2 linked regions of the Homo sapiens genome follow. The protein of the gene in region 1 purifies or fractionates together with the protein of each later gene. This does not show direct contact. Each region holds a gene or a part of one and is shown on either strand. Other genes may lie near its edges.

The links. The genes of interacting proteins can lie anywhere in the genome.
Region 2: the proteins of MANBA (region 1) and NUCB2 fractionate together in Homo sapiens (co-fractionation; one large-scale study listed by BioGRID). This does not show direct contact.

The regions. Positions count from the first base shown.
Region 1 is NC_000004.12:102,754,469-102,757,968, forward strand, and holds part of MANBA (beta-mannosidase precursor), read right to left. Parts: intron 1-3,500.
Region 2 is NC_000011.10:17,307,739-17,311,238, reverse strand, and holds part of NUCB2 (nucleobindin-2 isoform 1 preproprotein), read right to left. Parts: intron 1,668-3,500; coding exon 1,564-1,667; intron 415-1,563; coding exon 229-414; intron 47-228; coding exon 1-46. UniProt on the Homo sapiens protein: Calcium-binding protein which may have a role in calcium homeostasis. Acts as a non-receptor guanine nucleotide exchange factor which binds to and activates guanine nucleotide-binding protein (G-protein) alpha subunit GNAI3.

The DNA of each region.
Region 1 (3,500 bases):
TAAACATGGTTTATAGAAACCTGTTTAATGCAGGTAAGAGCATCACAATACATTAAATGTGAAAGAGTTGTTATTTATTTTATTTTATTTATTTATTTTTTTTTTTGAGATGTAGTCTTGCTCTGTCACCCAGGCTGGAGTGCAGTGGCGTGATCTTGGCTCATTGCAAGCTCCACCTCCCGGGTTCATGCCATTCTTCTGCCTCAGCCTCCCGAGTAGCTGGGACTACAGGTGCTGGCCACCACGCCGGACTAATTTTTTGTATTTTTAGTAGAGACGGGGTTTCACCGTATTAGCCAGGATGGTCTCGATCTCCCGACCTCGTGATCTGCCGCCTTGGCCTCCCAAAGTGCTGGAATTACAGGCGTGAGCCACTGTGCCTGCCCAAGAGTTGTTAAGCTGTATATTTAATACTTATAAAAGTGTATGCATTAAAAAAATTAGAATGGATGCACTGAATTTTTACTTTAATAGTGGTTATCCTGCTCAATGAAATAAAAGAGAACACAAACAAATGCAAGAACATTCCATGCTCATGGATAGGAAGAATTAATATCATGAAAATGGCCATACTGCCCAAGGTGATTTATAGATTCAACGCCATCCCCATCAAGCTACCAATGACTTTCTTCACAGAATTGGAAAAAACTACTTTAAAGTTCATATGGAACCCAAAAAAAGCCCACATTGCCAAGACACTCCTAAGCCAAAAGAACAAAGCTGGAGGCATCACGTTACCTGACTTCAAACTATACTACAAGGCTACAGTAACCAAAACAGCATGGTACTGGTACCAAAATAGAGATATAGACCAATGGAACAGAACAGAGCCCTCAGAAATAATACCACACATCTACAACCATCTGATCTTTGACAAAGCTGACAAAAACAAGAAATAGGGAAAGGATTCCCTATTTAATAAATGGTGCTGGGAAAACTGGCTAGCCAAATGTAGAAAGCTGAAACTGGATTCCTTCCTTATACCTTATACAAAAATTAATTCAAGATGGATTAAAGACTTAAATGTTAGACCTAAAACCATAAAAACCCTAGAAGAAAACCTAGGCAATACCATTCAGGACATAGGCATGGGCAAGGACTTCATGACTAAAACACCAAAAGCAATGGCAACAAAAGCCAAACTTGACAAATGGGATCTAATTAAACTAGAGAGCTTCTGCACAGCAAAAGAAACTACCATCAGAGTGAACAGGCAACCTACAGAATAGGAGAAAATTTTTACAATCTATCCATCTGACAAAGGGCTAATTAATCCACAATCTACAAAGAACTTCAACAAATTTACAAGAAAAAATCAAACAACCCCATCAAAAAGTGGGCAAAGGATATGAACAGACACTTCTCAAAAGAAGACATTTATGCAGCCAAAAGACACATGAAAAAATGCTCATCATCACTGGCCATCAGAGAAATGCAAATCAAAACCACAATGAGATACCATCTCACACCAGTTAGAATGGTGATCATTAAAAAGTCAGTAAACAACAGGTGCTGGAGAGGATGTGGAGAAATAGGAACACTTTTACACTGTTGGTGGGACTATAAACTATTTCAACCATTGTGGAAGACAGTGTGGCAATTCCTCAAGGATTTAGAACTAGAAATACCATTTGACCCAGCCATCCCATCACTGGGTATATACCCAAAGTATTATAAATCATGCTACTATAAAGACACATGCACATGTATGTTTACTGCAGCACTATTCACAATAGCAAAGACTTGTAACCAACCCAAATGTCCAACAATGATAGACTGGATTAAGAAAATGTGGCACATATACACCATGGAATACCTTGCAGCCATAAAAAAGGATGAGTTCATGTCCTTTGTAGGGACATGGATGAAGCTGCAAACCATCATTCTGAGCAAACTATCACAAGGACAGAAAACCAAACACCACATGCTCTCATTCATAGTGGGAATTGAACAATGAGAACACTTGGGCACAGGATGGGGAACATCACACACTGGGACCTGTCATGAGGTTGGGGGCTGGGGGAGGGATAGCATTAGGAGATATACCTAATGTAAATGAGGTTAACGGGTCAACGGGTGCAGCACACCAACATGGCACATGTATACATATGTAACAAACCTGCACGTTGTGCACATGTACCCTAGAACTTAAAGTATAACAAAAAAAGGGAAAAAATAAAAAATAAAAATAAATAAATATATAAAACTGTTGGGGGCATTAGTCACATGAACAGCTGTCAAAAAAAATAGTGGTTATCTCTGGGAGTGATGTTTCCAACCTTCTTCTTACTTATCTATATATTTTAATGTTGGCATACAGAGACTATCTAAAAAAAAAAAAAAAAAAAAAAAAGAAGCAGTTGCTTCAAAACTTACACCAGTGAGAAATTCCACAGAAAAGCTGAGAACATTCCTAACAAGGGTCCCTTTATGTATGCACTTAACATAACATATGGAAATTATTTAGTTTTCTGCCTCACTAAAGTGGCCTCCCACAAAATAGGAACTATAGTCTCACTCTCAATTTCTTTTTTTATTCCTAATGCCTATTACACTGTGTGGCATAATAGCAGGCTGAGGGCCAGGCACGGTGGCTCATGCCTGTAATTCCAGCACTTTGGAAGGCCGAGGCAGGTGGATGGCCTGAGGTTGGGAGTTCAAGACCAGCCTGACCAACATGGAGAAAGCTTGTCTCTACTAAAAGTACAAAATTAGCCAGGCATGGTGGCACATGCCTGTAATCCCAGCTACCTGGGAGACTGAGGCAGGAGAATCTCTTGAACCCAGGAGGCAGAGGTTGCGGTGAGCCGAGATAGTACCATTGCATTCCAGCCTGGGCAACAAGAGCGAAACTCCGTCTCAAAAAAAAAAAAATAGCAGGCTGAAGGAATAACTTTTCACAGAGAACCCAAAAGACTCTCTAAGAAACCAAAGGTTTAGATTCTGTACAGAAAACCCAGAGAATCACCTAGGAAATAGCCAAGACTAGCCACAGAATCTCTCACTAAATACAAATTTCATTTAACCAGCTCAGATAAAAAAAATCCTGGTATTTTCCTGCACCTCCCCCTTCTGTCTCCCAATCCATTAACAAATCCAACTGAAGAAATCCTCTTGTTTCTACATGTAAAACGTGTTCTCACAACCATTCTCACCATTTCACTGCCACCATGCTTGTCCAAGCCAGAAGTCATCTCTTGCCCATACATAGACCAGCAATAGTCCCCTGGTTGGTCTCCAGGCTTCCACTCTCCTGCACTGTAGCCTTCACACAACAGAGTGACCTTTAAAAAGGCAAATCTAATCATGCTACTCTAAGCTCAAAGCCTCCAATAACTTCCCATCACATGTAGAATAAAAGCCAAAGTGTTTCCTATGGCTCACAGCCTTTCATGATGTGCCCTAGACTTTGAACTCCTCTCCTACCCTCTGGTTCCCAGGTCTCCAGCCACACTGGCCTGCTGACTATTCCTGAAACTTGTCAAGCTCGTGCCTGCCTC
Region 2 (3,500 bases), on another chromosome or scaffold:
ATCCATCAGTCTCTTCCCATACCTCTTTTAGTTGATCTTTGCTTCCCTGTGAACCAATTTTAAAAAATTGCTCAAAACAAAATATAATCTATCTGTACAGACTCAAAATATAAATTTGAGGAACTTGGCAGAAGAATCAAGATTTAAGTACTAATAACACAATAAAAATCCGCTGATACGAAGAAGTATCTTTATCTAAAAATGGTTTCATAAAGTCACAATCCTTACTGGGTGATTAACTTTAGGGTGATTTTCATGCTTTTTCTTCATTTCTTCAAATTTAGACTCTTCTTCTTTTCTCTTTTCTTCATTCAATGTTTTTAAATATTCTCTCCTTTCATGTTCCTTCATCATTTCATATTTTTTAAATTCTTCATGACGAGTCTTGTCATAGTGTTCCAGATCACTTGTTGCCTGAAATGCAATAATGCATTTAAGTTAAATAAAAACATTCACTTGAAAAATGTAAATAAAGCCATTCTTGAATATAGCATACTCTTGAACAGAAGTGGTACGGGAGGGCAAAAACATACTGGACTCCTCTTTTTAAATTCTACCATTTCATTTTAGTCAAGTTTTTTCTTCTTTTTTTTTGAGACGGAGTTTCACCCGTCACCCAGGCTGGAGTGCAGTGGCACGATTTCGGCTCACTGCCACCTCCACCTCTTGGTTCAAGCGATTATCCCACCTCAGCCTCCTGAGGCCTCTCGAGTAGCTGGGATTACAGGCGCTCACCACCACTCCCGGCTAATATTTGTATTTTAAGTACAGACAGGGTTTCACCATGTTGGCCAGGCTGGTCTTGAACTGCTGACCTTGGGTGATCCACCCTCCTTGGCCTCCCAAAGTGCTGGGATTACAGGCATGAGCCACCATGCCCAGCAATTTTAGTCATCATTATTACCAGAGAGTATTCAAAGAAACTAAAAGTTCAAAGCTAGCCCCAACTTTAGGAAACTCCTCATAAGCAAGTAATATGTAAGTTGATTTAAAAAAAAAAAAGAAGAAGAAAGGAACTATTATCAAATCTAGACAGTACAGAAAACTAAAATGGCTTCTAACCATTTAACTAATCTAATACCTGCCAGGTTAGAACTAGTTCCATTCACACATAATGTGAGAGGTCCACAAACTCTTATCTGGAATCTCTGAGGCCAGATGTGCTCAGAATTTTCTACCTTAAAGAAAGGGAATATGGTACATATGCCATATTATGGAATATCCCTGTAGCATCTGTAATCAAACAGACTAGTATTTCTTAAGCAAAATCTATAAATATTCACACTAAGTAGGTTAAATAAAAACTGTAAATGGTTTTACTATAATTGGTTCATTCAGGCCAGGTTTCAGTTTTTACAGCTTTTGGATTTAGGAATTGTGGATAAGGGATTTTAGACCTGTATGTACATATTAATATCTGTATTAATAAGGGTTAAGCTACCTTCCTTTAAAGAACTTCTACAGAATATATAAAAGTTATATTTCCATTTCATTGGGTTTACTTGTCAAATTACAAAACCTCAAAGGCACAATAAAGACAAAACTTTTTGGAATTATTCTCACCGCTTTGATTAGCATATCTAAATCTGTGGATTCAAACTTGTCAGGATTCAGGTGGTTTAGGTGATCAAATTGTTTTAGAAGAGCTTGGTGGTCCATGCCTATATCTGAAAGAAAATAAGAAAACTGTAAATGATCAATTTCTAGAAGCTAGAAACATAATAATTATACACAAGAAAAAGATTTCATATTTATTCCTATAGGATTTTATAAGGAAATCCAAAGTTTTAGAATAAAGGCTTATATTTACTTTATGAATACTGCGTATGTTATTCTAGTTAAAGGTAGTGTCCTTGAACCTAGAGTGGAATGCAATTTAACATGTATATTTTTAAAAATTCTCTCTCATTTTTTTTTTGAGACATGGTCCTGCTCTGTCACCCAAGCTGGAGAGCAATGGTGCAATCATGGATCACTGCATCCTTGACCTCCTGGGCTCAAGCAATCCTCCCACCTCAGCTTCCTAAGTAGCTAGGACAACAGGTGTGCACCACTACGCCTGGCTAATTTCTTTTTTTTTAATTTTTGGTAGAGACAGGGTCTCACTATATTGCCCAGGCTGGTCTTGAATTTCTGGCCTCAAGTGATCCTCCCAACTCAGCCTCTCAAAGTGCTGGGGTTACAGGCATGAGCCACCATGCCTGGCCTTATGCATATTTTAATGTTATATCTTAAATAACTAGTTGACTATCAGCACAATAACAAACCCTTTTTAATTATCTTAAAACTACTAAATATCCTGCTTTTAATAAATCTCTAATATAGTATCCTTATCAAAGGTTTAAGTAGAATTTCTAAAAATAATTGCTCTAAAGCTTACATGAAAGAATTCCTTGTATATTGCTCCAATGGATCACTTATGAAACAATAAAAATCTAATTTAGGTAAATTTCCTTTTAATTATGAAGTATTTTTAAGGAAATATCAATTTTTTTAACGTTTAAAAAACAAGTTACAATTTACTATAGTGAAATGGGTGAAGTGATGCTGGATTGTTTCAGTTGTATTACATAGTGGACACATGTAATGGATACACAGTGGATATACATACAAGACAGCTCACCAGAAACAACGCAATACGAGCCCTTCTAGAATTGAGCAAAATGGGTACATTGTTGAAGTTGTTGGAAATCAGCTCTCATTTAGGAAGAAGGAATATACAAATATGGAAGGGTGAAAGGCAAGAAAGAAATTGCTAGAGATGAATGGGAATTAGCACTATCTGTGTGAACTCAGCATTTCTAAAATATGTACATTTAACATGTATATGCATGTTTCACATGTATATGAATATGTATGTGTTTATATATGTGTCTATGTGTATAGACATGCATATTTCCTAGCTCCATGCAATTAAGGTGCCAAGAAAATACACTCCAGTAGCAAGGAGCGTACCTAGTGCCAGCTCTTGATCTAAAATATAGTTGCCCCTTAAGAAAAACCAGTGCTCCTCAGAGAAATGGCTCATTCCAGAGCTGGGGCAAGGTAGGTACAAGTTGATCCTGGAACATATTGTTATGCCAGAAAGTGAAGAACTGCTAAATCTGGTTCAACCAAGTTTTCACTGAATTCTAAGTATGGCACTGTACTAGCAGTTCTATTTATGAAGAAAATACTTGTTTTAAGACTTAGCCCTAAAAAAAATGACCAGACAGTGAAATATATAAAAAGACCCTTAACCTCACTCAAAATAAGAGAAATACATATTAAAACTGCACTGCTATACTATCTAACAGAATGGAAAACTCCTAAAGTTTGATGACACATGCCATTAGTAAGCCTGTGAGGAATTATTGCTGGCGGGTATGTGTATTGATACAACCTCTATGGAGGCAAATGTGGCAATATCTATCAAAATTACAAATATATATATATAATTTGATTTGGCAATTCCACTGTGGGGAAATTATCCTAAAGATAATCTTACAGGGATACACAGT